Regions from separate parts of the Homo sapiens genome. Here regions 1 and 3 are each linked to region 2. Evidence: fine-mapped expression QTL. A gene starts in region 2. Each other region holds a variant in brackets. All regions are shown on one strand. Distances are between the middles of the regions. Region 1 holds the start of CGREF1 (cell growth regulator with EF-hand domain 1). Region 2 holds the start of MAPRE3 (microtubule associated protein RP/EB family member 3). Region 3 overlaps MAPRE3 (microtubule associated protein RP/EB family member 3).

Evidence for each region.
Region 1: its variant is fine-mapped to the expression of MAPRE3 in whole blood (INTERVAL, PIP 0.94).
Region 3: its variant is fine-mapped to the expression of MAPRE3 in whole blood (TOPMed, PIP above 0.99).

What each region holds. Positions count from the first base shown.
Region 1 is chr2:27,114,481-27,124,456 of GRCh38, reverse strand. It overlaps CGREF1 (cell growth regulator with EF-hand domain 1), which reads left to right and starts at 5,329. Exons shown (of 6, transcript NM_006569.6): 1 at 5,329-5,611. ABHD1 (abhydrolase domain containing 1) reads right to left here and starts at 642. Exons shown (of 9, transcript NM_032604.4): 1 at 395-642. The coding sequence starts at 508. It overlaps LOC124907744 (a long non-coding RNA gene), which reads right to left. Exons shown (of 2, transcript XR_007086252.1): 2 at 6,972-9,833. RefSeq lists silencers at 558-697, 718-797 and enhancers at 5,396-5,896, 5,897-6,397. The variant C/T (reference allele first, on the strand shown) is at 4,761.
Region 2 is chr2:26,966,456-26,976,431 of GRCh38, reverse strand. It overlaps MAPRE3 (microtubule associated protein RP/EB family member 3), which reads right to left and starts at 5,795. Exons shown (of 7, transcript NM_012326.4): 1 at 5,630-5,795. RefSeq lists a silencer at 5,581-5,910.
Region 3 is chr2:27,022,828-27,032,631 of GRCh38, reverse strand. It overlaps MAPRE3 (microtubule associated protein RP/EB family member 3), which reads right to left. Exons shown (of 7, transcript NM_012326.4): 3 at 9,155-9,300; 4 at 8,335-8,536; 5 at 6,895-7,049; 6 at 6,600-6,752; 7 at 5,413-6,352. The coding sequence ends at 6,284. Among named protein-coding and RNA genes, the nearest start is that of TMEM214, 5.2 kb to the left of the region's middle. RefSeq lists enhancers at 1-44, 7,649-8,439. The variant T/C (reference allele first, on the strand shown) is at 6,800.

The DNA.
Region 1 (9,976 bases), 150 kb before region 2:
TGGGGGGTGGGTGGTATTGGGAGTTAGCCATGACCCACAGACCTCTGGTTCCTTCCTTCAGTGCAGCTGAAAGACTCAGCTAAACCACCTAAAAAGGAACGCAAAGTGTGCACATCTCTGATACCTCAGGATGCCTTCCACCCCACCTTTCCCCAAATGCTTGTCCACATTATAGGGAGCAGCACCCTCCGGTACCCAAAAGGCCCAGCTGGCATGGGGATCACATGGGATGCAGAGGCACTAGAGAGGCAGAGCCGACTCTCCATTCGGTGGTAGCAAATTTCACCTGTGGGGAAGCCCAACCATCCCAGTTCCCACCAAGGGCCCAAGCCCGTGTCTGGAAGCTGCCCCCTACACCCAAACCCGCTGGCCAGAGCGGTGGACCCGCACCCACCTGAAGCACACATGCCCAGTAGTAGCCCAAGTAGAGGGCAACGGCAAGAGCCAAGAGCAGAGAGAAGGTGTCTGCCCAGGTGCCATTCTGGGGGCTCAGGAAGGAGCTCAGCATCTTGTGTTGGGGGCTTCCGACCCTCAGGCTCCTGGCTGGCCCCAGTTGGCCGGCTGTAACTCGCGGTCCCACCCGCCGCCCGCCATAGGCGGCCTGTGCAGGTCCGGTCCCCGCTGCAGGCAGTTTGCGCTGCTGGCCCCGCCCACCGCCGGTGCCCCGGGATGGGCGGCGAGAGGCGGCGCTAGTTGGTCGCGGGGCTGGGTGGCTGGTCGCCTAGTGCCTCGCGCGGATCTAACCCGAGTGACCTGCGAATGGCCTCCCGCCCTCCCCTGCCTTCTTCCCCTCCGCGGTTCTTGGCTGTGCAGCCCGAGACAAGCGGCCTCCCCCAGCTGCCATCTTGGTGCGGGGCATCTCCAGCTCCCTTAAACTCTTCCCCGGCGACGCCCCGAGTCCAGCAGCCTGGCCAGAGTCCCTTAGGCGCTCGCAGTCAGTCACGCACAGGACACAGCTACTCCTGCAGTGACATTCTGCTCTGTCACACACTACAGCCATTCACAGTGACCCTCACCAGTCACTGTCCGACTGTGACACCCCACACTGTCACAAAGCTTTCAGCTGCTCAGTGGTGGCATTGCAACACATGCACCTTCCTGCAGTGTCACTCTGCATTGTCTCATACAGTCCCTGCCACACAGTCCTCGTACAGTAGATAATTTGCTCACCACCCGCCCTGTACCAGGCACTTGATACAGACCCCCCATGTTACTGTCCGTGTCTTCATTGAAATATAGGAGGTCGTCTACTAAGAGTAGTGGCTTTCAACCTTGACTGCAGATCGGAATCATCTAGGATTTTTAAAACTACCAGTGCCCAGGCCCTACCCCCGATACAGTTAGTCTGGAGAGGAGCCTAGGTATCAATACACCGTAAAGCTTCTAGGAGGTCCACAAGTCATCAGGGCTTAACATGGTCCACACAAGAGAAGTACCAGCTGCCATGGGAGCACTGCGGAGGTGCCCGGACTTCACGCGAGGGTGTTCTAGCAGAGGGGGCAGCAAAGGCAAAAGCCTGGAGGTGAAGGATGTCTTAAGGGAACAAAGAAAGTTGGTGTGGCTGGAGCATGTGGGTGGTCAAGGACCACATAATTGCTGCAGTTTATCCTAGGGTCAGAGGAAAGCCATCCAGGGGTTTTAAGAAGGGAAGGGTGACATGAGTTATGTTTTAGGAGAATCATTCAGTTGCTTGGAGAATAGATTGGAGGAGGAGGAAAGTAGAAGCAGAGAGGCCACTGGGAGGCTGCTAACAGAACGCCAGGCTCAAAAGATGCCCGGACTGGAGGATACCCAGGAGAGGAGTGAAGATCTTCAAGATCAGTGGCAGAATTGATAGGACCTGGTAGTAGATTGGAGGCAGGGGAAGAAGGAGGAACATGGATGACCTCCAGGTTTCTGACTGCACAGATATAAAGTGTCCATCCCTGGGACAGGGAAACAGAGGAGAGGAAGGTTTGAAGAGGAAGATGATGCATTTAGACACAGACATGTAGAAGTTGGGGTGCTGGTAGGTGTTTTAACTGTGTTTCCTTAGGTTCTGTATTTGTCTATTTGGCATCCATAAATCACAGGGCCAACCTAATGGCCAAGGTTGTTTACATCTCCCCTACAATCCAGAGCTCACACTCTGAGCACTTCCTTTCTCTAACTTTCACATTCCAAGCCAGTATCTCCCCTGCCCTAAATCAACCCAGGACCAGGTAACCAGGACCTGTCCCTGTGCCCCAGAGCACTCTGGAATTATTCAAACTAGCCAGTCCCAAACTGCTTCTCCTGCCTTACTGGGAGAAGTAAACCCCAATAAAGGCCTGTACCTTCCCTTCGCTTCTTTCTGCCTCCTGAGTGACACTGGCACTTCCCCCTGTGACCGTGCCTTTTGTTTCTAGGGGAACTGCAAATAACATTAAGCTTTTCTTTCAATAGCAGTGACCTCTTCATGTCCTCACTCAGCCACCTTTATAAATTAAAACTCAGGCACAAATTAGTAGGATATTCAATGCCTGAAGTGGCCTGGGGCTTAGAGATTGGAGGTGGAGAATTGGCAATCATCAGCATTTAGGTGGTGTATTAGTTGGCAGTTTGCTGTAAGAAAGCACTACAAACTGGGTGTCTTAAACCAGGGGTCCCCAACCCCCTGGGCTGCAAATTGGTACTGGTCCATGACCTGGTAGGAACCAGGTGGCATAGCAGAAGGTGAGCAGGATGAGCAAGCATTACTGCCTGAGATCAGCAGTGGAATTAGATTCTCATAGGAGCGCAAACCCTATGTGAACTGCACACAAGAAGGATCTAGGTTGCGTGCTCCTTATTAGAATCTAATGCCTGTTGATCTGAGGTGGAAGTTTCATCCCAAAACCATCACCCTCACCCCCAACCCTTCTGATCTGTGGAAAGATTGTCTTCTCTGAGGCTGGGCACGTGGCTCACGCCTGTAACGCCCAATGCTTTGAGAGTTCAAGGCAGGCGGATCACCTGAGGTCAGGAGTTCGAGACCAGGCTGGCCAACATGGTGAAACCTCGTCCCTACTAAAAAAATACAAAAAAAGAAAAAAAAAAGAAAAAAAAAAAAAGATTGTCTTCTCTGAAACTGGTCCCTGGTGCCAAAAAGGTTGGGGACTGTCTTAAACAACAGAGATTTATTGTCTCACACTTCTGGAGACTAGAAGTCAAGACTGAAATATCAGTAGGGTGGGTTCATTCTGGGAACCGTGAGGAATAATCTATTCCATGCCTCTCCCCTGGCTTCTGGCATTTTGCTGGAAATCTTTGGCACTCCCTGACTGGTAGAAGCATCACCCTGATCTCTGTCTTCATCTTCACAAACATCTTAGTGAGTTTGTGCTGCTATAACAAAATCCCACAGACTGAGTAATTTACAAACAACAGAAATTTATTCCTCACAGTTCTGGAGACTGGGAAGTCCAAGATCCAGGCACTGGCAGGTTCGGTGTCTGTGAAGGTCCATTCCTCAGAGATGGTGCGTCTGGGTTTCCTCATGTGATGGAAGGGACAGAAAGGCAAGAGAGCAAGAGGGGTGAACTCTCTCAGAAACCTCTTTCATAAGGTCATTAATCCCTTCATGAGGGGAGAGCCCTCATGGTTTCATCATGTCCCAAAAGGCCCTACTCCTTTTTGGTTTTTTTCAGAGGCAGGATGTCGCTCTGTCACCAAGGTTGGAGTGCAGTGGCAGGATCACAGCTCACTGTAACCTCAAATTCCTGGACTCAAGGGATCTGCCTGCCTCAGCCTCCCAAATAGCTGGGACTACAGGCGTGCACCACCATGCCTAATTTTTATTTATTTATTTATTGTAGAGACACGGTCTCACTATGTTGCCCAGACTGGTCGAAAACTCCTGGCCTCAAGAGATCCTCACACTTCGGCCTCCCAAAGTGCTGGGATTACAGGTGTGAGCCACTGTGCCTGGCTTCCTCCTCTTAATATCACCACAATGGGGACTAAGTTTCAGCACATGAATTTGGTGGGATATTCAGGCCATAGCAATGTTCTTCCTATGTGTGTGTCTGTGTCCACATTTCCTCTTTTGATATGAACACCAGTCATATTGATTAGGGGCCCACCCTACTCCAGTATGACCTCATCTTAATGGATTACATCTGCAATGACCCTATTTCCAAATAAGGTCACAGTCTGAGGTATTGGAGGTTAAGACTTCAACATATAACTTTGTGAAGGACACGAGTCAATGCATAACAGTGATGGGAGCTAGGTGAGCAGATGAGCACATGAGCAGATGGAAAGTGAGGAGAGGGCCCTGAGGAACTCTGACGGTGAAGAAAATGGAGACCTTTTTGAAATGACCAGAGGTAGGAGAGGTATTGCCGAAACCAGCAGAATCCGTGATCTAAAAAGGCAGTGACAAGCAGTGTTCATCACTGGGAGGAGGACAGGATGAGAGTGGGCTTGTCGCTGTGATGACAGTGTCGCTGTGATGGAGTGTCACAAACAACTCAGGAAGAGTTCACCCTGACACCCCAATACATATGCCTCTAACACTCTGCACCGCCACACCCCTGGGCAGTCAGTCACACATTGGCCATACCCTGAAGCCCACACTATCATTTATTTTTTATTTATTTATTTATTTATTGAGACGGAGTCTCAGTCTTGCTTTGTCACCCAGGCTGGAGTGCAGTGGCGTGATCTCGGCTCACTGCAAGCTCCACCACCCAGGTTCATGCCATCCTCCTGCCTCAGCCTCCCGAGTAGCTGACACTACAGGCGCCCGTCACCATGCC[C/T]GGCTAATGTTTTTGTATTTTCAGTAGAGACGGGGTTTCACTGTGTTAACCAGGATGGTCTCCATCTCCTGACCTCGTGATCCACCCGCCTTGGCCTCCCAAAGTGGTGGGATTACAGGTGTGAGCCACCACGCCCGGCCCCTGAAGCCCACACTATCACACGGATGCACAGTCACACAAAATACCCCCTACCGTGTCACAAATTCCTCATACACAGAGCCACACATGCCAGTCACAACCGCACATGCTAACAGTAAGTTAGGTTCCATTTTGTCACATACATCTGGGTCCCTCAGGCAGAGAAAGTGGCAACCAAAGCATGAGCACAGTTAAACATACTTCTGATGCACACTGGCCTCACTGTCTCTTGGTCTCTCTGTACTCACATGTGTGCATACAGGCACACGCACACATCCGCGCACACATGCACGCTCACACACGTGCATCCTTACACATGCTCACACTCACGCTCACAATGTCACACGCATGTGCACACCCGCACAAGCACACGAGCGCACTCACGAGCACACGCGGACTCGCACACGCGCACATGCGCACTCACGCACGCACACACGCGCACACTCACACGGGCGCGCGCAGCCCCTCCGGCCGCGGGCGCAGCGGGGGCGCTGGTGGAGCTGCGAAGGGCCAGGTCCGGCGGGCGGGGCGGCGGCTGGCACTGGCTCCGGACTCTGCCCGGCCAGGGCGGCGGCTCCAGCCGGGAGGGCGACGTGGAGCGGCCACGTGGAGCGGCCCGGGGGAGGCTGGCGGCGGGAGGCGAGGCGCGGGCGGCGCAGCAGCCAGGAGCGCCCACGGAGCTGGACCCCCAGAGCCGCGCGGCGCCGCAGCAGGTGGGTGACACCCCGCCCCGGCCGGCCGGAGACCCGAGCCCATCGCCGTCAGCCAGCCAGGGCCGCGCGGGGTAGGTGGCCTCCAGCCTCTGGTCCAGATCCCGAGAGCGCAGTCCCTCTGCATCCCCTGCGGCTCAGACGCGGCGGGAGCAGTGGCCCTTGCCCCTGTGTACCCTGAGGGCAGGTGGAGGAAGGGACTGGAGAGCGAGCCTGAGGCTCCTTGGTGTGAATTTGGGGCTTCGCAGTTCCCCAGGCGCTTCCCCCAGCCCCGCATTCCGTGTTCCAGCAGTCCTGGGGGAGGGGCAGCTGGCGGGAGCTTTCCCCCTCATCCGACGGGGAAGAAATGGAGCGCTGGGGAGGGCCCGAGGCTGTCGTCCGCTTGCAGGTGGCCGAGGGACCAGCTCCCGGGTGTGGGCTCCTCTAGCCCTGTAGCCGCTGTCTCCTTTCTTGGGGGATGGGTGCTGGGAGGCACAAGGGCACCAGAGGGATAAATTAAGAATTAAGGGAGAGGATTCTACTCAAAATTTTAGCTTCCCAACAGTTCGACTCTACAGGAGATGGAACTGCCGGCCTGTGAGGTGCTAGGTTCCTGTCCTGGAATGATTCAAGCAGAGGCCATTTGACAGGGTTGCTGAGGAAGAAATTTTTGCTTTGGATGGGAAGTTACCCAGGATAACCCTGCAAGGCCCCTGCCACAGCCCAGAGGCTCTGAAATACCCAAGCAGCACCTGCTTGGTGCCAGGCACCTACCCTAAGTTTTCTCATTGCAGCCTCCCCAAACCTTTAGGAGACAGATACCGTTATCCTCATTTTTAAAATGCAGATCCCGACCAGGAGCAGTGGCTCACGCCTGTAATCCCAGCACTTTGGGAGGCCGAGACGGGCGGAACACGAAGTCAGGAAATCGATACCATCCTGGTTAACACGGTGAAACCCCGTCTCTGCTAAAAATACAAAAAAAATTTAGCCAGGCGTGGTGGCAGGCGCCTGTAGTCCCAGATACTCGGGAGGCTGAGGCAGGAGAATGGAGAATGGCGTGAACCCGGGAGGCGGAGCTTGCTGTGAGCCGAGATCGTGCCATTGCACTCCAGCCTGGGCGACAGAGCGAGACTCCGCCTCAAAAAAAAAAAAAAAAAAAAATTCAGATCCCAGGGCTCAGAGAGGTTAAGACACCTGCCTAGGTCCCACAGTGAGTAGTATCAGAGGCAGGATTTGATCAGAAGTCTAACCTGTAGAGCGTGCTCTCCTCCCATGCACTGGTGCAAAGGCTTGAAGAACACTGGGGCCGGAGGGTCATTGTGAATGTGTGAGTGCACGTGTGTGACATAACTTTATTAAATTACATGGCAACTGTTAACAGTTATGGTGGCTTTCATGTGTTTATTAGGGTAATTATGTTCATGCACATTATAGTTATAGAAAATGGTTAGGGACATTTTTATTGGACAGGCAGTGGTTCAATAACTATTTTATTTCTCTCACAAAAGCTTTTGTTAATGTTTAGAAATGTCTAAGTGTCAACACATCGCACTAACCTCATTACACATTACATGAGGTGTCTTAGCCTTTCCTTAAACCACTGAGGTGGGTTACTTGCACTAAAATGTCACAGTTGGAAGCATTACTTAGAATATTGGCCAGGTGCAGTGGCTCATGCCTGTAATCCCAGCACTTTGGGAGGCCAAGGTGGGTAGATCACTTGATCAGGGGTTCGAGAACAGCCTGTCCAACGTGGTGAAACCCCGTCTCTACTAAAAATACAAAAATTAGCCAGGTGTAGTGGTGCACACCTGTAATCCCAGCTACTTGGGAGGCTGAGGCAGGAGAATCGCTTGAGCCTGGGAAGTGGAGACTATGGTGAGTAGATTTTGCGCCACTGCACTCCAGCCTGGGTGACAGAGCGAGACTCTGTCTCAAAAAAAGAGAGAGAGAGAGAGAGAGAGAGAGAGAGAGAGAGAGAGAGAGAGAGAGAGAATAGGCCTGGCCTGGTGGCTCATCCCTGTAATCCCAGCACTTTGGGAGGCCAAGGTGGGCAGATCACCTGAGGTCAGGAGTTCAAGACCAGCCTGGCCAAGATGCCGAAACCCCATCTCTACTAAAAATACAAAATTAGCAGGTCATGGTGGCACATGCCTGTAATCCCAGCTACTCGGGAGGCTGAGGCAGGAGAATCGCTTGAACTCGGGAGGTGGAGGTTGTGGTGAGCTGAGATCGCGCCATTGCACTCCAGCCTGGGCAGCAGAGTGAGACTCTATCTCAAAAAAAAAAAAATTATACTGAAAGTCCACATCATTTACTTTTTTTTTTCTCTCTCTTTTTTTGAGACAGTCTTGCTCTGTGACCCCAGCTGGAGTGCAATGGCACAATCTTGGCTCATTGCAACCTCTGCCTCCTGGGTTCAAGCAATTCTCGTGTCTCAGCCTCCGAAGTAGCTGGGATTACAGGCACGTGCCACTGTGCCTGGCTAATTTTTATATTTTTAGTAGAGATGGGGTTTCACCATGTTGGCCAGGCTGGTCTCAAACTCCTGACCTCAGGTGATCCTTCCACCTTGGCCTCCTAAAGTGCTGGGATTACAGGTGTAAGCCACCATGCCCGGCCTTTGTTTTTTTTTTTTTTTTTGGTGGCATCTTGCTGTCATCCAGGCTGGAGTGCAGTGGTGTAATTATAGCTCACTGCAGCCTTCAACTCCTGGGCTGAAGTGATCCTCCTGCATCAGCCTCTCAAGTAGCTGGGACCATAGATTTGAGCCACCATGCTGTCTAATTAAAAACAATTTTTGTTTGTTTTTTTTAGAGATGGGGGGGGTCTCATTTTGCTGCCCAGGCTGGTCTCGAACTCCTGGCTTCAAGCAATCCTTTTGCCTTGGCCTGCGAAGTACTGGGATTACAGGCGTGAGCCATTGTACTCAGCCCAATCACTTGCATTTTTGAGGTGGGCTATAACCGAATGCTAAGGTTGTCAGGAGGGCCCAGGACATTCCAGATTGAGGATGGAACAGGTTGGGCAAAAGCACTGAAAAGTGAAAGTGGAAAGTATTTTAGGAGACTCCAATAACTCCTTGGTTTGAAGCAGTGTGCTATCATAATACAGCACTGGAAGATGAGTCAACAGTAACTTGATATCTGATTGTAGAAGGCCTTGAATGCCCAGGTGAAGATTCTGGACTGTAATCGAAATAGGGAGCCACTGAAGGTTCTAGAGCAGTGGAATTCTAGCAAAGGATGATTTATCTGATGTGGGTGTGGAGGGTTCTTTAAGTGGAGAAAATACCAGAGACAGGGATAACACTAAAAGGCTTGTATATTAGTTTGTGCCAGAAGTAATTCATTATTCATTTAATGTTCACTGTAACCCTGTGAGGTAAATATTATCTCCAGTATGTGGATAAGGTAACTGAAGTTTAGTGAGAAAAATTAATTTACCCAAGGTCACAGGGACACTCAGTGGTGGAGCTTGGGTTTAAAAGTAGGTCTGGCTGTTTCCAAAGCTCTGTTTTCTGTCCATTAAACATACTGAAGAGTTAAATATATGAGGGGTACATAGGACCAAGAAGAGGAGAGTGATAGTCATTCACGGGGTAGGACTCAGGACCAGGTGCATAATTTGCAGGGCTCGGTGCAAAAATGATTGAGAGTTTCAAGATAGTGACAACAGAGCATTAGCCTAAGCACAGGGCCCCTCTGAGAGCGGGGAACTTGTGACTTCACAGGACGCACACCCATGAAGCCAGCCCTTACATGGTTGGTTTTCCAATTACTATGGCAGTGTAACAAACCACCTCAAAATGTAATGGCTTAAAAGGATAATGGGCCCAGCATGGTAGCTCATGCCTATAATCCCAGCACTTTGGAAAGCCGAGGCAGGAGGATTGCTTGAGCCTGGGGGTTTCCAATCAGCCTGGGCAACATGTGAGACCCTGTCACACACACACACACACAAAAAGATAACGTTGATGTTGACTTTGCACATGAGTGCAGGCTGTGGAGACAAGCACATTTCTACTGCATTCAGTGTTGGCTGGGGCAGCTCAGAGGCTGGGGGTTAGAATTATCCGGAGCTTGGCTCTCTCCCCTGTCTGGTTGTTGGGCTGGGAAGATTTGAGCTGGAGGCTTCTCAGGCATCTGTTTCTAGGTGGGTTCTCCACACTCTCTCTTCCGTAGGGTGGTTTCGGGGAGACCAGGCTCCTTCCATGGTGGCTCAAGGTTCCAGAGGTGCACATCTGTGTGTCAAGTGAAGGGGAGAACCAGAACCAGGCATAAGCTAGGTCACTTTTATTACTTGGACTTGGAAGTCATGTAAGCACCATTTCAGCAACTCATTAGAAGCCAGTCACTAAGTCCAGATCATATACAAGGGGAGGCG
Region 2 (9,976 bases):
AAGGGAAGACTGGGTGATGGAATGTGAATTACTCAGCATAACCCATCCTAACTCCTGGGTAAGCAACCCAAAGCACATGTCCAAATGATAGGTGTGTCATCTTTCTATAATAAACATGACATCTGGCTAGAAAATACAGCTGGCCAACTTACGACAAAATTAAAAGCTGAACAATCCTTAAGGATTTTATCAGAGTTTACCAGTAATTCCTACCAGAAGCAGTTAATCAGTCATTATGTGAAAGATGTGCTGTACCAGCCAGGTCTGACCTAGAACTTAGCTACACAGTGTGCCAGCATTTCAGCTTGGGTCCCTTTAAACTTCAAGCCCTCTTGACATTAACTAAGAGGCAGGAATTTTTCATGAAGGTCATATAGTCAGATGCCATTTTCATCAATAGCTGAAAATTAGCTTATTAGAATAATTATGATTATTTTAGCTGGTCAACAGATGGAGGGGACTATTCTCAAGAGGGGAGTGAAAAGACTAGGAAGAGTTGATGGGGTAGGTGGTCAGTTAAGTACCCTGGGCTGACCGGGAAGCAGCCACTTTGGAGGGTCCTGCCCTCACTTAAGAGCTTGATTTGGTGCAAACTGCCTGGGCCTGCTTGAAGCTGTCAAACCCTATTTGCCCCAGGCATGGGAGGCTCCAAGTAAAGGCAGCTGCTTCTTTTGTACCAAAATGTATTTACTGAACAACAATCACTACCCATTCTATTTGGTCTTCATTAAATGACTAAAGCATACATGCTTCTTATAACAAGTCAAATACAAAAACATATAAAGTAAAAGTTCCCCTTTGAGTCTCCTTTTCCCTTCCCCACACCCAAATCCCACCTCCCAGAGGTAAACATTATTGCGTTTCTTTTCAATCTTTAGATGTCTATACATGGGTATTTCCTTCCCTACTGAAATTTATCTAGGAATTTAAATTCACTTTTGCTCTTGCACCTGAACAGCTTGCCCTGGTTCTTTAATTACTCAGTAGTTTCTGCCTTGAGCCAGTCTGTAATTCTCTCCATCCAAAATGACCTCCCTTTACCTCTGCTCACTGGCAAGGTTTCCCTCTTAAGATGAATAGCTCCTTTCCCTTGCCCCCTGGATCTCACGGATGCAGAAGCTGATTTTAGCAAAGTCACCGATGAAATCTATGCCTCTACCAGTTGAGGAAGTCAATAAAGACCACATGTGTGTCCCTCACAAGCAAGAGCTCAGCAGCTTTTCTATTTCAAATGAAGACCACTCCCCAGACTGGCCTCCCTGCTGGAGAACTAGCCACCCCCACCACACACCCAAGCACACCACATCTGTGCCTCCTAAAGTCAAATGCTCCTGTCCTGCCAGTCTTTCAGGTTGGCTGAATACATGGAGCAAAGATACATTTCATATACTCCGGTTTTGGCAGTTGAAATAATAATGCAAGTGCCGGGTCTTCCCGGTACAAACCTTTTCTCTGTTCGTGTCAAATACCGAGAGGGGTGCTGAGAGATGGGGGCTACAAAACTGAGAGTCCAAGATGGACCTAAATCACGAAACAATTTTGAAACCATTATTTGCTATTTTATGCTTTAGTCAATATAAAATAATCATTGCTATTTCTTATGAAGCAAGCACTCTACATACTCCCTTTCATTTAATCTTCACAACAACCCTGTAAAACAGATAGTTATTATTCCAGGGTTATAAATGAGGAAACTGGCATTCAGAGGTAACATAACTCACCCAAGGCCACACAGCCAGGAGATGGCTGGATGGGGATCTGAACTCAAGTCTGCCTGCTTCCAGAGGTCAGGCTGCCTCCGCGCTTCCCAAGGAGAGGGTTTAGAAGTCCTTATGGCTCCCAGAAACTACAAAAGGTTCCATTCTGAGAGGTGGAAGATAAGCCCGCAGCTGCCCAATGTGCACGCTCCTCCTCTCAGCCCCATCTGCCTCTCCACCTTGCTTTCTGGAATGCGGCAGTCTCACAGATAAGAAGTAGAAAAGACTTCAAATACCCAACTTCACATTTGCTTTTCTGTTAGTTGATGCAAATTAAAAAAAGAAAGACCTTCCTGAAGTCAGAATGTGTGATAAAAAATATTATTTTTAAAGTGGCAAGAATAAATATTTAGTTAGACAGTTTGACACAAAATTTTGCCTGGCTGTGCAGCATCTCAGATGACAAAACAAGCCCTTGCCTACAGGGCTAATTACGGACTACTAAATTATTTTTATTAAAACCCTTTGGAACATTATGAGGGATGAGGCAATGTGGTGTTGAAGAATAACTCTAGTCTGGAAATCTGGAGATCTAATCCTGACTCAGCCACTAATAACCACCAACATTCATCTGCCTAGTGTACACAGTTTACAAAGTGTTTTTACATACGTTCTGCATGGGTTGGGTGACCTTAGGTAAGTCATTTAACTCTTGGTGTCTTGTGTCAACTTTAGAAATGAGGGCATTAAACTATACCATCTGGGGTCACCTCCAGTGCTAACATCCTAAGCGAGGGAGACATGTGCCTTGGGACCTTTACAAATGTATCTGTAAGCAAATCAGGGCAGATGCATTCTGTTTTAAAAAACTATATTTTCTGGCCAGGCGCGGTGGCTCACGCCTGTAGTCCCAGCACTTTGGGAGGCCGAGGCGGGTGGATCATGAGGTCAGGAGATGGAGACCATCCTGGCTAACAAGGTGAAACCCCGTCTCTACTAAAAATACAAAAAATTAGCCGGGCGCGGTGGCGGGCGCCTGTAGTCCCAGCTACTCGGGAGGCTGAGGCAGGAGAATGGCGTGAACCCCGGGAAGCGGAGCTTGCAGTGAGCCGAGATTGCGCCACTGCAGTCCGCAGTCCGGCCTGGGCGACAGAGCGAGACTCCGTCTCAAAAAAAAAAAAAAAAAAACTATATTTTCTGTTCGGCTTCTGACAAATGTTACTCGGCTAAATTCAGGAATAGCTCATAAGACGTTTGCTGCCAGTTAGTTGGCTCAGTTTCTGGAGAGTACCACATTAAGACCCTGGGTTGGATTCTCATATGGGAACTTTCCTCCGTTCAATAGCCTCCTACTATGCCTAACTCCAGCCAGTCATCTTACAAATACAACCCCACAATGTGTGCTGGCGTGCAGGAAGGACTAGAAGAAACTCAGCTTCACAATGCATGCACTCTCAGGACGGTAGGTCAGAAACGGCATCATCACACAGGAATACTATCAATAGCATTCTTTCTCAGTTCCAAGATTCACAAATCCCTCCCTCAAGTCTTGCCATTTCCCGAGGGTTTTAATGTTTCTAAAATGAGGATGCACCTTGGAATCAGCATATATATTTTGATCTGGTAGCATTAGATTATTTTACCTAAAAGCTATTGGTAAATTGCTGGTGTGTCTTAGAATCAAGAATACAGTCCTACAAAACCTCAATACCATTACATAGATTTAGGTCTAACTTGGTTCAAATCATGTCCCTCTCCTTGATCTTAACAATTACATTCAGCAACAGCTGGATAGGCAATGTATAAGACAAGTATTAGTCCTGTTTCCTCATAGTAGCAGTTTAAAAGGCATTCCATCATTATCTCATAAAACACTGGTATGGATTTCAAAGGCAAATTAATCCATATAAAAACTACTCTGATCCTCTGAAAATGTACTATCCCATAGCAAACTGGAAAGGAACATTTTACTTACACCCTCCTGATCTATCTAGCCTTGACACATTTTCTTCCTCCTTAATTCACAACCCTCCACCCCAGTAATATCGCTGATTCCCAAAATACACTCAGCCCAGGAGGAGCAGCTCTCCAGTACAGCTGTCTGCTCCTGCCCTGCTCGGGTATTTTGGTGAGCTATGTGACACAGGACCACACAGAAGGAATGCCACTCTCAGGCCCCACAGTTCCCACTGCACCACAGGCAGGTGCATCCCACCAAACCCCAGTCTGGCATTCGAAACAGAAGAAACTGCCCTGCTGGATGGGGGCTATAGTTTTCCTGAACTTCATCTCTATGTTTAAAACTAGGGCGACAGCCGTCTTGGCTACTGTAAACTAATCTGATGGGCATGGGGGCAGGGAGTGGCTATGAGGAGGCTGCCAATAGGCCATGATTGAGCAAAGTAAAGAGTGAAATAGTTATTTCTCATTGTTTGCAACCCCGGAAACTCCAAATGAGTGGCTCCTTCACCATGATTTTTAGAAATGGACCATGCGTTCCTTTTACCATCTGGAGTAAAAATCCCAAAGCCTCTTGTGCGGTAGATCTGGCTTATATTTACACGTGCTTTCTAAAAGCACACTGAAATTTGGAAGCCAAATAAAAAAGAAGCTGACAATGAGGTCATATAGTAGTTAGGGGCCCTCAAGTTGAGACATGTTTATTAAGAGTTTCTGGCTCTGGGCACTAACTCTGACTTCAACTCAGTTCTTCTGGAAAAAGAAAACTGTTTGGGACCCTCTTCTATTCCAAGAACAGGGACTGCAAGATGGGCAGGTGGAGGGGTAGCAAACATAACCCAGGGAATTGTCCAAATATGCTAGAACCCCTATCTGGTGACAGCCCCACAAAGACACACAGCTGGAGGAGGCACAGTGTACAGGCCTCACACCTACACCATGGAGAAGCTTCGATTTTTCTCCTTCCTCTCAACTCTGCACACGTTATGTTAAAAACTCACTACTATCCAATTAGTTAATTTACAGGAATCCAAGATCAAGTCCTGCCACAGCCCCTTCATATATAAACAGTAAGCACTTCCTATGGATGGTATCAGGCCTTTTTCCAAACCTCACATTATACCAGGGTTGTAGTGCGATTTAAAAAAAAAAAAAAGCATTTTAAAGAGTTCCGCAAGATGCTTATTCACAACACCACACCGGAAGCGCAGGAACTTGGAGCTCCCAAACGCAACCTCTTCTCCCTTCCCTCCACTACTTCTACTCCCCGCTCCGCAACACCGGCCGGGCAGTAGCTCAGCCCACTAGAAGGCCACCAGGCACTAGCCGCGTTCATTAAACGCTAGATGATCACGATGGGGCTGAACCCTTCCCAGCCAAATCTATTCGGAAAGCCCTGCAAGCTCTGAGCAGCCAGTGAGAACTGTCCAGACCTGCTTCCCCAAACCAGCCAGGCAGGAGCGTGTGGGGAAGAAACCCGAGGCCCCCAGGCTGGGCCTGGCCCGATGTTCCCCCTCCCCCAAGTCTCCCCTCGCTCTCCTGTCACTCTTTTTCTGGCACATCACTGGGGAGATCCAGAGAGGCCGGGAGATGTCAGGCCTAGGAGGAGTGAGGAGGAGGGAGAAGGGATAAGGGCGGACGGGAGGTAGTTTGGAGAAAATATCAGCCCAGGGCAGAGGTGCGGTGGCCACGTCTAGTGGGGAAGGAGCCTCAAGGTGGACCCGGAGAGACGGAGGGAAGGGGAGGGGAGGGAAGGGGAGGGGGAGTGGCTGGGGAGGCCGGGCCGCCAAGGCCGGAGGGAACCCGGCGACAGGGATGGAGGGGGTTGACCGGCGCGGGGAAGGCGCGGTCGGGATGCGGGAGTGCGGGTGGGGAGGCAGGGGCGGGGGGAGCCCGGTTCCCCTCCCCCAGCCCGGGCCCTGGCCTCCCGCTGACTCAGCCCCACGGCGTCCGTCGCCTCGGCCCGGACTCACAGTGCACGAGGCGGCTCCGGCGGAGGCGGAGGGGGAGGGGACAGGTGGCGGGGGCGCTGCGGCAGAGGCTGCGGCTCCGGCCGGCGGCTCCGGGGCGGAGGGTCCTCGCTGAGGCCGCCGCGGTCTCCGGCTTCAACGCACAGAGACTGCGGGGGACGAGGGCACTGCGCAGGCGCGATGCGGCCGCCGCTGTCAGTCCGAGCGGGGCGGGGCCAGGGCACCCGCCGTCTCCAAGGCAACTGAGCCGCGGGAGGACAGCCCCTACCTCCACCTTGCCTTAGCGATTGCGGCGGGAGGCGGGGGGCGACAGGAACAGGCCCACTGCGTTGCCGTAGCAACGAGGAGAAGAGACCGCTTCAGACGTGTGCGGCGGTACCGAGGGAACGCGCCTACCTCGTCACCATAGCAACTGGGAACAGCCCCTTCCTTTTTCCCTGGCAACAGGGTAACAATCCCTCCGCCCTGTCTCATCACAGGAGGAACAACCGTGTGCACCTGATTTCAGTAGCTGGATGACGGATTTTCATCTTTTATGGCTACGGAAAAGGAAAAAGAGACGTTTTCTTCTCTTTCAGCGACATGGAAGAGCTAAGGCTGGGTTTTATCTCCTCTCTTGGTGTGTGGGTTCCAATCACAGTCTTTTTCTCTAATTCCCAAATTCATTTTTTTTTCTTTTTTTTTGGGACGGAGTTTCACTCTTGTCGCCCAGGCTAGAGTGCACTGGCGCGATCTTGGCTCACTGCAACCTCTGCCTCCTGGGTTCAAGCAATTCTCCTGCCTCAGCCTCCCGAGTAGCTGGGATTACAGGCGTGCGCCACAATGCCTGGCAAAGTTTTTGTATTATTAGTAGAGACAGGGGTTTCATCATGTCGGCCAGGCTGGTCTCGAACTCCTAACCTCAGGTGATCCACCTGCCTCGGCTTCCCAAAGTGGTGGGATTACAGGCGTGAGACACCGCGCCCGGCCCAATTTTTTTCTACCTGTTTTAAACATCCCCTTTCATCTCCTACCAGAGAGTGTGCCCTTTACCCTTAAATCGAGCTAACGAAATCGTCTATCCACAGACCACTTGAGTTTTTGTCAGCCTTATTGTCTCTCTCCCATTGCAAGGATAAACACCTCATTTCTTCATCTTGCTCACTATCTGGTTTGCAGTCCACTTCCTCATAACTAGCTCCCTCTGACATGTCCATTCGTTTTCCCGAATTTCCTCCTCCAAGCATGCTGTTATGGATCTCCTCGGTTCTTCTGGATCTCCCTTTCCTCTCCACACTTGCTGTCCTTGTCCAGCACTGCTCTGCCCGGGGCTCCAGTATGTTCTTTCCCCCTGTGACTTCAGCATCTTGGTTCTCTTTGTGCTGATGTCTTCTGGCTCTTCCTCCCTCAGCCCTGATTCCCATGGATGCCTTGAGGTCACCTTTGTACCAACCCTGTACATTCCTCCTTTCTTACACACACCTTACACTATCGTCATTTGTTTACGTGTCTGTGTCTCCAGACTATGTGACCCTGGTGGGCAGGAATTCTGTCTTTTTCATCAGCTCCCTCAGCATCCACCACAGCATGTGACACATAGCAGATTCTGAGAAATGCTTATGTAATTGAATCAAATGAAGACAAATCTTTTCCTTCTTCTTTTCTCTGGCCTAACTGCCTCAGAGTCCCAGTCCCCATTTCTAATACCTTTACACATAGTTTGTCTTTTAGTACTATGCTACTATTATAAGTCTTTCATCTCCTTAGCTTTCCATCCTGTTAATTGAGACTCTGGCATTCTCTATTTCCTGAATCCTCGCCTCTAGCTCTTCTCTCTTCTACACTATCCCAAATGTTTCTACTAAGGTAAATTTCCTCACTGGGTACCAACCCCGTGACTCCCATACCCTCCATAATCAGCGTAAGCTCTTCACACCTAACCATCCTGATCATCCCCTAACCAGCTCTAATCAAGCCTTCTTGGTGAACGTTACTGGATTCTGCTGGGCTTGTTGACATGCCAGAGATGCAGCATTCTCTTCAAACAACTCAAAAGCAAGAGCTCACAACCTAGCATTCTCTTCCAAATCTCCCTGTCTAGCTCCCACAGATTCCGCCGCAGGACTATTGGTGCCAAAGCACCCCAACTAAGCCCATTTTCTTGGGGAAAAAAGAAGAAAGTTACAAATAGAGTAAGTAAGAAAAGAGAGGGGACACAGCATATCCTCTCTTCTTCCACCTAAAGCAATTATCAGAAAGGAGAGAGCTCTTTGTAGACAATAATTCCCAAAACAAATCAAGGGGTTAGGAGAGTAAAAACCCAGGCTACACTTTTTTCTAGCCACAGAGTTGGACAACTGGAGCTGTTTCTAACTGCATCTGCAGGGTATCTGGGTGTCACCAAGGCAATAGGGAAGTCGCACGCTCAGTTTATCTTGCTTTCCCATTCTGAAGTTCCAGCTCAGCTTCATTGTTACAGGTATAGACTTGGGTGGTGTAGACTGTCCTGAGTAATCCTGAGAAGAAGCTATGATCCTTGTAACCCCACCCCTTTGTCATACACAAGGTAGAGGACCATTCTACAAAGAGTTCCTATATACCCTTCACCCAGATTCTCTACATATTAACATTTTACTATGTGCCATTAACTATTGCTACAAAATGAATCACTCCAATTCAGTGGTTTAAAGCAACAACCATTTCGTTATCTCTATTTCTGTGGGATGGGAATTCAGAAAGCCCGCAGTTGGATGGTTCTAGCTCAAGGTGTGAGTCAGAAGGTGGCTGAAACTTAAACAGCAGGGTGCTTGCTGGACGACTTTTTATGTTGTCTTAGTGCTTATAGATCATTTGTGTAATTTCTTTGCACGAATGTCTAGTCAAGTCCTTTGTCCATTTTTGAATCGGACCGTTTGTTTATTGTTGTTGAGTTTTAGGATTTCTCTATATATTCTGGATATAAATCCCTTATCAGATAATATATGATTTGCAAATTATTATTATTGTTATTGTTATTATTATTTTGGGCCAGAGTCTTGCTCTGTCACCCAGGCTGGAGTGCAGTGGCACGATCTCAGCTCACTGCAACTTCCACCTCCCAAGTTCAAACGATTCTCACGCCTCAGCCTCCCGAGTAGCTGGAACTACAGGCATGCACCACCACACCTGGCTAATTTTTGTATTTTTAGTAGAGACAGGATTTCGCCATGTTGGCCAGGCTGGTCTCAAACTCCTGACTTCATGTGATCCACCTGCCTCGGCCTCCCAAAGTGCTGGGATTAATGGCTTGAGCCACCCACCACACCCAGCCCCAGGACAGTTTTCTAATACTGTTAATTCCACTTCTTTAGCTTGTTTGTTTGTTTAAGACAGGGTCTTGCTCTGTTGCCCAAGCTGGAGTACAGTGGCGTGATCACGGCTCACCTACAGCCTTGACATGCTGGGCTCAAACAATCCTCCCACCTCAGCTTCCCAAGTAGCTGGGACCACAGGGGTGTGCCACCACACCTGGCTAATTTTCTTTTAGATTCTTTTTTTTTGTAGAGATGAGGTCTCGCTATGCTGCCCAGCCTGGTCTCAAACTCCTGGGCTCAAGCAATCCTCCAGCCTTGGCCTCCCAAAGTGTTGGGATTACAGATGTAAGCCCAGGGCCTGACCCTAATTCCACTTGTTGTTGTTGTCTTTGAGACAGGGTCTTGCTCTGTCACCCAGGCTGGAGTGCAGTGGTGTGATCATAGCTCACTGTAGCCTAGACTTCCTGAGCTCCAGTGATCCTCCCACCTCAGCCTCCTACATAGCTGAGACCATAGGCATGTGGCACATGCCAGCTAATTTTTGTGTTTTTAGTAGAGACAGGGTTTCACCATGTTTCCCAGCTGGTCTAGAACTCCCAAGCTCAAGTGATCCACCCACCTTGGCCTCCCAAAGTGCTAGGATTACAGGCGTGAGCCACCGTGCCTGGCCTCCACTTCTTAAATGCCTCTCAAAACTCTTCCCTTCTTTATCTGCTTCACCTTTACCATCTCTTGCCTGGGTTACTGCAGAGCTTCCCGCCTGCTCTCTCTGCCTTCAGCCTCTCTCATCTCCAATCCATTCTTTACACCATTGTCAGAAGGCTCTTTCTAGAAATAAATCTTATCACATAACTATCCTGCTTAAATCCCTATGGCTGTCCTCAGACCTGCTGAAGCAACTTCCGGGATGGGGGATTCATGTAAGGAAACAGGGCGGAAGAAATATAGAATAGATTATCTTCCTCATTTTTTTTTTTTTTTTGACCCAGGCTGTCATGCAGTGGTGCGATCTTGGCTCACTGCAGCCTCTGCCTCCCGAGTTCAAGCAATTTTCCCACCTCAGCCTCCCAAGTAACTG
Region 3 (9,804 bases), 56 kb before region 2:
CAGTAGCGCGATCTCAGCTCACTGTAACTTCCGCCACCCAGGTTCAAGCGACTCTCGTGCCTCAGCGTCCCGAGTAGCAGGGACTACAGGCTCCCGCTGCCAAGCCCAGCTAATTTTTGTATTTTTAGTAGAGACGGGGTTTCGCCATGTTGGCTAGGCTGGTCTCGAACTCCTGACCTAAAGTGACCCACCCCACCCCCACCCCTCAGCCTCCCAAAGTGCTGGGATTACAGGCGTGAGCCACGGCGCCCGGCCACTGTTTTTCTTTCCTTTCTCGTAGAGCTGGAAGGATGGAAGGGAAGTAGTGCTCCTCATATCTAGGGAGAGATTGAAGATTAAATGCTTCCTTCCTTCTAGGAAAGTGCTGGCTTTACTGTTGCTAGTGATTAAACCTCGGGTTTAATGGGCTATACAAATCTATTGCCAAAGAACAAGGAAGAGGATGGGGGCTTGAGGAAAGGGCAGAGTGTTGGGGAGCTGGGGTAGGAGGTGGAGAATGGAGAATAATTTTTTTTTTTTTTTTTGAGACAGGATCTTGCTTTGTCGCCCAGGCTGGAGTTCAGTGGCGCGATCACGACTCACTGCAGCCTCAACTTCTAGGGCTCAGGTGATCCCCCACCACGGATCACCTGACCCACCACCACCCCCGGCTAATCTTTGGTATTTTTTGTAGAGACTGGGTTTTGCTGTGTTGCCCAGGCTGATCTCAAACTCCTGGGCTCAGTGATCCACCCTCTTCAGCCTCCCAAAGTGCTGGGATTACAGGAGTGAGCCACCGCTCCTGGCCTCTGAGTTCTTCTCATGGGAGGCTGAGAAAAGTCTGGGGGTCTGGGACAGCCAGGGCCGGGTTTCCCCTTCCAGGCAATGAGAAAGAACAGGCTCTGCCTCCCACCATAAGAGTCAATCCCAAGTTCCAGATGTGTCAGGGAAGCGATGGAGAGCCCCAGACTTGAGGCATCTGCAGACAGGTTCCTGCTCAGACATCCACGTGGAGGGTGTTAGTATCCTGGGAGCCTTCAGAACCTTGAAGCATGCCAGCAGAGGAGAATGAGGGAAGATAAAATCAAAGTGACTTATCACAATTAAGGAAATGTGCTATTTCATGTACAACTGTGTGTGAGGATGAGATTCCTACCTGCCATACTGAGGTATTATGATAAGAACTAAGAGAGTCCAAATTCCTACAGGATGAACAGCTGAGGGAGCGATGCATTCCTTAGGAAGGAGTTTAGCTTCCCGAAGGAGACGGCAGCTGAGATAGGTTCTGAGAAATAGCATTTTCATTGGTTCCCCGGGCGCCGTGGCTCACGCCTGTAATCCCAGCACTTCGGGAGGCCGAGGTGGGTATCACCTGAGGTCAGGAGTTCGAAACCAGTCAGGCCAACATGGTGAAACCCCATCTCTACTAAATACAAAAAAGTAGCCAGGTATGATGGCGCAGGCCTATAATCTCAGCTACTTGGGAGGCTGAGGCAGGAGAATCGCTTGAACCTTGGAGGCGGAGGTTGCAGTGAGCCGAGATTGTGCCACTGCACTCCAACCTGGGCAACAAGAGCTAAACTCCGTCTCAAAAAACCCAAAACAACAACAACAACAAAAAACAAAATTGAATGTTCACTGGCTGAGGGTTAGGGTGGGTGGAGAGAAAATGCCAGTTGTGTGGATCTGTTGATGTAAAACAAAGGCCTAGAGGGTGGTAAACTGGAAGCAGTTCAATGGGACAGTGCTTGATGGGACTTTGGAGGTGATGAGGTTTGATATAGTTTGGATTTTTGTCCCTGCCCAAGTCTCATGTTGAATTGTAATCCCCAGCGCTGGCAGTTGGGCCTGGTGGGAAGTGTTTGGATCATGGTGGTGGATCCCTCATGGTGGATCCCAGTTCTCATGAGATCTGGTCATTTAAAAGTGTGTGGCACCTCCCCACCACCTCTCTCTCTCGCTCGCTTGCTCGCTCCTGCTTTTACCATGTGATGTGCCTGCTCCCCCTTTGCCTTCCGCCATGATTGTAAGCTTCCTGAGGCTTCCCTAGAAGCAGATGTCAGCATTATGCTTCCTATACAGTCTGCAGAACTGTGAGCCAATTAAACTTCTTTTCTTATAAATTACCCAGTCTAGATGTTTCTTTATAGCAATGCAACAATAGCCTCTTATGAGTTTGGAAAGGGATCTGAGCCCATATGCCAAGGAACTTGCCTGCCAAATCTGGACTTTATCCTTCAGGCCCTGGGAGACCAGTGAGAGGGTGGCATAATCCACTCTTTTGGAAGGGTAAATGTGGCTGTGTGAAGTGTTGGTAGGGGAAGGCAGGGGGTGGGAGATGAGCATATCTTGCTGCCTCCTTCTACCTGTCCTCCAGCCCCCTTAGGCCTGACCATGGCTGACTTTGCATCCGGTAGCTCTGAGATACAGTGCCTTTGCCAAGGACCATATTTGAACTGATCATTAATCAATTCATTTTGCAGATCATTGGTTTAGGTGTACTCAGGAGACCAACAACAATATCTTCTCTTTGTTTGACCCCTCCTGTGTCACATGTATGATCACAGAAGAGACCATGTTTTTGGAAGAGAAACAGAACTGGCTTTCCATTGAGGCAAATGAGGGGGCTGCCCCATGGTGGAGACACACAGAAGGGTGGGAGAGGGACTCTATCTTTCATTGGAATAGTCTAGTAAGTTACCAGTTCTAACTTGGCATCTAGGACATATAAATCATGCATTTACTTATCCAGCAACCTTTTCTAAGCACCTTCTCTGTGTCAGGCCCTGTGCTAGGTGGAGCTGGAAGATATAGCTCACTTGCTTGTAAGGAACTTGAAGTCTGTGTGGGGGACAAATGTATAAACAGAAAATTACAGTTCACCATCTTAGTGTTCCAGAGGAAAGAAGCACTTAGTATGAGGTACCAGGAAGAGGTGGGGAGAAGGGAGTGGCTTTACATCCTTAAGTTCTGGGTGTTTGAAGAGCAGCCTTAGACACTAGCCACGGAGGTGGGCTTGGGTAGGCCCCGCCGTGGGGTTTGAAGACCCAAAAGATGTTGGGTCAAGGAGGACATGGGTGTCTAGTGTGGGAGCAAGCAGAAGGGTGAGCTCACCGAAGCACTGTTTTACCCACTGTACTACGTTTCTATTGCTGCTAAAACAAATTGCCACAAACTTAGTGGCTTAAAACAAGGGCGTTATCTTCCAGTTCTGGAGGGCAGGAGTCTAACTCAGGTCTCCCTGGGCTAGAATCGAGGTGTCAGCAGGGCTGGGTTCCTTTCTGGAGGCTTTGGGGGAGCATCCATTTCCTTGCCTTGCCCAGCTTCTAGAGGCCACCTGCATTCCTGAGTTCATGGCTCCCTTCTGTCTTCAAAGCCAACAACAGTGGGTGAGTCACTCTCACATTGTTTCACTTTGACCTCTTCTTTTATTTTTCTGAGACAGGATCTTGCTCTGTTGCCCAGGCTGAAGTGCAGTGACATGATTATGGCTCACTGCACCCTTGACCTCCAGGGCTCAAATGATCCTTCCATCTCAGCCTCCCAAGTAGCTGGGACTACAGGCATGTAGTACCATGCTCGGCTAATTTTTCTATTTTTTGTAAAGATGGGGTCTCGCTGTTGTCCAGGCTAGTCTCCAACTCCTGCGCTCAAGTGATCCTCCTGCCTTGGCCTCCCAAAATGGTGGGATTACAGACATGAGCCACCACACCCTGCCCACTCTGACCCTTTCTGCCTCCTGCTTCCACTCTTATAAACGTTTGCGATGACATTGGACCCACCTGGATAAACCAGGACACTCTCCCTATTTTAAGGTCAGCAGATTAACTTCCTGAATTCCATCTGCAACTTTTTTTTCTTTTTTTTTTTTTTTTGAGACAGGGTTTCAGTCTGTTGCCCAGGCTGGGGTACAGTGGAGCAATCATGGCTCACTGCAGCCTTAACAACAACTGGGCTCAAGTGATCCTTCTGCTTCAGCCTCCTGAGTAGCTGGGACTACAGGCACGTGCCACAACGCCCTTCAAATTTTATTTTTTGTAGAGATGGTGTTTCCCTATGTTGCTCAGGGAAGTCTTGAACTCCTGGGCTCAAGTGATCCTCCCGCTTTGGCCTCCAAAAGTGCTGGGATTACAGGCGTGAGCCACCGCACCTGGCCCACAGGCAGCTTAATTCCCTTTTGCCATGTAACCCACATATTCACAGCTTCTGGGGATTGTGATGTGGACATTGGGGGAGGCACTGTTCTGCCTCCCACACCCACTTTACCTTCAGGGTGAGGTCTCGGCCTGGCCTATCCTTTCATGGTATCTACCTGTAATCATGGGGAAAAGCCTTTAAAAATTAGGCAAGGGAATTAAAATCATCACGATAAGTAAAAGCAGGCAAGGAACTTGCTGGAGGAGAACAGAGATAGAATAAGGCAGAAGTGTCTATGTATGGGGGGGGGGAGTCAAAAGGGGTGGTGGAGGTGATTGAGGAATAAACAGATATGAATTGCTTATTTAAGGCTTGAACCTGGTGTCATGAGAGAAATGGTGGTGGTCTCAAAAGGGGCCATGGGGTGGGGCCACAGAAGAGACACGGCCCCATCTGCATGTTGACCATACTCAGGGTGGTGAGGAAACCAGCGCTGTCCTGCAGCTGGGGGAACCTCAGTGGTCTTTGGGGATGAGCCCTGAACCTCAAGTCAAGAAGTGTGAGTTCTAGTCCAGGTTTCAGCCACGGTGATTGAGTCATGCACGTGGGCCTCTGACCCCTCATCAGTAAACCGGGGGCTGGTCTAGATGACCCCAAGGCTCTCACATTCATTTCTGCACTCTTGGTCTCTGCTGGGCTTCTGGGACATCGGTTAGTATGGCCTTTTGTTAGGCACATGCCAGGACTGGGGCTGTGCAGGTGATGTGGAAGGGTTCCTGATTCCCTGTTCCCACTGGAGCCTGCTCTACAGAAGGAACCCCTTGGATGTTGCTGTCCCGGGCTTCAGCACTCAGAACTCCTTGCTCTTTGTGGCCATCCCAGCTCTCTCTGTCACGTGAGCCCTTGTCCCCAGCTGAATCACTATGATGAGTTGTATGAGCTTTGACAACAGGTGGGGGATGACATGCAGTCCCCCTGACCCAAAGGAGACTGAAACGAAGCACCTCTTGGCCAGGCCACCACGGTGCCCCACAGCCGCTTCACCGGCTGTCCCTTGTCATGGCCACGGGCCCAGACCTAGTTCCTCCTCAGTGACGGGGGGTTGGGGCCCCTACCTGCCCTCAGAGCCCTACCACCAGTGTTGGGCATTGGGGCTAGGCTGGAGCTGGGCTCTGAGCCCAGAGCTGGTGGTGGTTTCCAGGCCTGTGGGAGGGTGACAGTGAGGCTGTGCTGCCGCTATCACCTCCGGAGAGAGCGGTGCATGGGAGGTGGAAAGCACTGGACCTGGACTGTGGCTCAGTTGAGGGACACATGGCATGTACTTTTACCACACAAGTTTATTTAAATAAAAGTGAACACATATGCAGGCTGGTGCCCGAGGGGCAGGGGGTGGGGAGGGCAGGTGGGAAGCAGACAGACAATGGGGTCCAGGCAGAGTTTGTGTGGTGAACCAGGCTGCTGGAGGGAGTGGCTGGGGGCCTCAGGGCAGCGCTGGGATTCAGTGCTGGGGCAGGGGGCCTTGGGTGGGTGAGCCTGGTGCCAGGAGGTCATTTCCATCCCTCACATGCCCCCCTCCCTTTCCCTGACCCCCTGGGCCTACAGCACTACCTCCTCAGCCCCCTCTCCCTCTCCTGACATCAGCCTTCCCCTTAGCTACTGAGAAGCCAAAAGACAAAATAAATTAGAATGGGTGAGTCCTACCCCAGCCCCCAGCCATGGGGAAGGGAAGCCAAGCCAGGCACACTGCGCCGGAGCCCGTGCTGTCAGCTCTGGAAAAGAACAGGTAAAGTGCAAGGAGAATCCAGTAAGTAAAAATATACCAATGACTTTGTCAAATACACAGCTGCTGGCTGTCAGGAGCAGGTGGCTGGCTGGGGCGGGTGGCAGCAGCACCCTGGGAAGTGTTGGGCGACACAGCAGAGAGACAACGGAAATAAATAGGGTGGGTGTGGACAGGGGTCCCACCAACTGGGCCAGCACCACCCAGGACGGGCTTCTGCCTGCTTTCCGGCCCCATGCCCCCAAGCCCCCCTCGCCTGGCTCCCCAGTGCTGCAGCACTGACACAAAGCACCCGGCCGACCGTGTTAGGAAAGGACTATAATGTGGGAGTGGAGCAGGGAGGGAGGCACGGGGAAGCTGTGCAGTCAGCCAGGGCTGCGGCCGCCCTCAGTACTCGTCCTGGTCTTCTTGTTGATGCTCTTCAATCTCATCGTCCTCAGGGGGTGCGAATCCTTCCTGGAGGGTGGGAGAGAGAGGAAAGTGGTGGGCCAGGCAGGCCAGGCAGGGCTTCTCAGGTTCTGTAAGTAGCTGAAGAGCAAGGGGTCAGGAGTCCAGGAGCCCTGCTAATGGGTGACCCTGGGCTAGTGACTTCACCTCTCTCTCATCAGTAAATGTTCTCCACGGTCCCTTCTGGCCCTATCGCGCTTCTGGTCTTAGGGCCAGGCCAGACTGGGGAGGGCCCAATGGGCCTGGGAGTGCTCACCTCTGTGGCATAGAGGATGCCAATGATGCCTGAGATAACAGGGCTGTTTTCACTTTCATGCTCCTGGCAGATGAGCTCGATGTCACGAAGTTTGCTGAAGTAGAAGTCACGTTCCTTCTCCAGCCCATCCACTGTCAGCTTCAAGTCCACCAGCTGCTTGGGGACAAAGTGATGTTCAAGCCAGAGGTCCCCACCTCAGG[T/C]TCCCCTGCCTGCCCTCCTCTCGTCCCTGCAGACACCCCAAGGGCCTGGCTTTGGTGACAGGGCTATCTCAGCTACCCTTACCCATCCCACTCACCTGTTGGTTGAGTTCAAGAATTTGGGCATCAGTCTCATGGCCGCCATTTCGGGCTGATGGAGGATTCTTCCGGAGAATGCAGGGGGGGGCCACATTGCTCAGCCGGCCAGAGGTCTGCATGTTTTTTGGGCCTGTGGGGGACGTCCTCTGTGGAACTGCCCAGAGGAAAAGAGTCAGGTAAGTCCACGTGAGCCCACAGCGCACGTGGCAGGAGACAGCCTGGTGTGAGGACTGCGGGGGCAGGCCCATGCGACAGGCAGGCACTCTCACCCCCCTGCCCCCACCCCAGGAAGGGCATCTACAGCTAGGCCCCGAGTCTTGGCCACATGGACACTCCAGCAGCTGGGCAGCCCTTTGGCGAGCCCGGGAGAGCAGAAACTATAGGGAACTAAACAAGGTGTGAGGTGTTGGGGCAGGGAGAGAGCTGGCCTGAGGGATAGAGGAGAGAAATTAGGACGCAAATTTGGGGAAGTAGAGTTGGAAGGGTGCGGGACCCTCTCGTACTCATAGCTAGAGGAAAGGCAGCTGGCACAGGGTCTTTCCTAACAGAAGCCCCAGCCCAAAGCCATTGTCCCTGGGTGGCTGCCCCTCCAGGGGCCCTGTGTCAGGATGGGCTCTTTTGCCCTCTGCTGGGCTGGACCAGGTATCTGCACAGTGGTGGCCAAATCAGGGACCCCAGCTCCTCCCCAGCGCAGCCAGCATGCCGTGGCGACTTGCTCACTAGCGACTGCACCTCCCTAGACAGAGCGGGCTGCTTCTAGTGCAAAGCAAGCAGGCGGGCGAGTGGGGCAGGCCCAGGCAGAACAGCAGTGCAGACAGAGGAGGTGGCTCTGCTATGACGGGGTCCGACGCGGGCTGGGGCTGCTCCTCTCCCTTCCCCTCCCAACGCTGCTGCTTCCCAAAGGCCCTATTGCTTTTCTCCCTTCCCCTCCAGGACCCAGACAAAGCCTCGTTTCTAGAGACTCATCTTTTGAGGACTTAGGACTATTGGGCCTTTAGAGTGGGGAAAGGTGTGATCCAGCTTGGCAACTCCTGCCCCTGGCCATCCAGGGGGCAGGGGGCAAGAAGGGGCTGTGGTGCTGGCACCAGGCTCTTGGTCTGGATGCACCTGGATGGAGAAACCAAGCCACCTTGCTGCCCCATCATCTTGAGGCAAACAAGTTAGCTCGTGCTATGAAACAAAGTGCCTTGGGCCTCCTACCCCAGTTGCCACCATGGCTGGTGCTGGTGGCTCTCCTCTTAGACCAATTTGTGGAGCTCTCTCACCCACTACTTTCACTCCCCCGGTCTAACTGGCCAGCAGGCGGCGTCATCCGAACTCCGTGATAACAAGTCTCCTCCAGGCTGGCAGGGCCGGGCCGTGGCCCAGGGGGCACTCCTGGCTATAGAGGCCTGCCGGCCCGGCCCCCCACGCTCCCTCCCCCGGCTCGGGCACGTTACCTGCTGTGCCAATGAGTTTCTTGGATTTGTTGAAGATCTGATCACCTGGGTTAGGAGGTGGCGCTACGTCCTGGCCCTGCCGCGCCAGCAGAGGGTTGTAATCCTTTCCATCATAGTTTGCGTCAAAGAATTTCTTAAACCACTGAATAAACTCAAAATTATCTTGGAATTTTCCTTTCACTAATTTCTCTACAGGAATGATCTGAAATAGACCACATAAGCAGAGTACTTTAGCCACCTGCTGCTGTAGGACCGCCTTCCTCTGCTGAGGGCCACTGCTCTCAGGAAAGCCAGCCCCTGGGCTGCAGCGTCCTCCACCTTCTCCACTTGCCCCCCTCCCACGGCACCAGAGCAGACAGGTAGGCTGGTAGGCCCTAGTGTCAGATCCAGAGGCATCCCTTCTCTACAGGCACCGTGTGGAAGAACTGTGTGGGGAGGCGTCCCTTGGCTCTACTGCCTGCGTGTGGGCTGGGGGTCTGCAGCCACCGAGGCAGTAGAGTGAGCAGAGACACTTTCTTGGGCCCTACAGAGACAGAGAGAGGTGGAACTTCACAGGAGCGGTGCACAGAGCTCAGTGTTGGGGTGGGCAGGGTCCAGAGAGGAGGAAGGGAAAGGAATGTTGTCATGATGGCATGGCAAGTGTTGTGGGCTTTTCCATTGTGCCTTGAGCAGGGGGAAAATTCCCTCTGGAGAGTCGGGAGGTGGAGGGAGGCACGAGCACCGGAATGACCCCAGCAGCCCCAGTTGCCTGGGCTGGTGGGTCCTCTTCTTCCCCAGGGTCACACTGCTCCTCAGGGCCCCCCAGAGCGCAGGCACCTACTTTGTCAACACCCATCTTCTTGAAAGCTGCTTGCAGCACCTTGAAGTTGTGGATGTATTCGTGCTCTAGTTTGGCCTGGAACTTCACTTTCCTCAAGTGCACACAGCCGGGGAAGAGCATGTCCATGAACTGGCAGTAGGCTGCCCCTGTGGAGAAGGATGGCTGGCTGAGGGGTCTTGCTGCTCTCCTTCTGTGAGCTGCTCTCTCTCACTTCCCCAAACCCCGTCTCCTCTTCTCTCTCCTTGTTCTGGGCCAGGGACCAGTCCTACTTTCAGGATAGACATGGCCAGAATCCCCCCAGCTTTCCAAGAATAAAAGCAATGACTATTTATTGATGCGTATTATGAACCAGCACCACACCAAACACTGCATGTAGGTAGGGCAATCCCAACAGGAACTCTAGTTAGTTGGTGATACTATCTCCATCTTATGGATGAGAAAACTGAGGCCTAGGGCAGTATAGTGACTTGCCCAAGGTTGCACCACCAGAAGAGCTGAGAGCTGGACCCAGAGAGGTGTGGTCAGACCTGTGGCTCTGCTGCCATCCTGGCTCTCAGCTCCCCGCTCCTCCTTTCCCTGCAGTCCTTCATGGTGCCTCTCCTGCTCTTCTCTTTCCCTGCTTCCATTTCTTGACTTCAGCTCCAGACAGT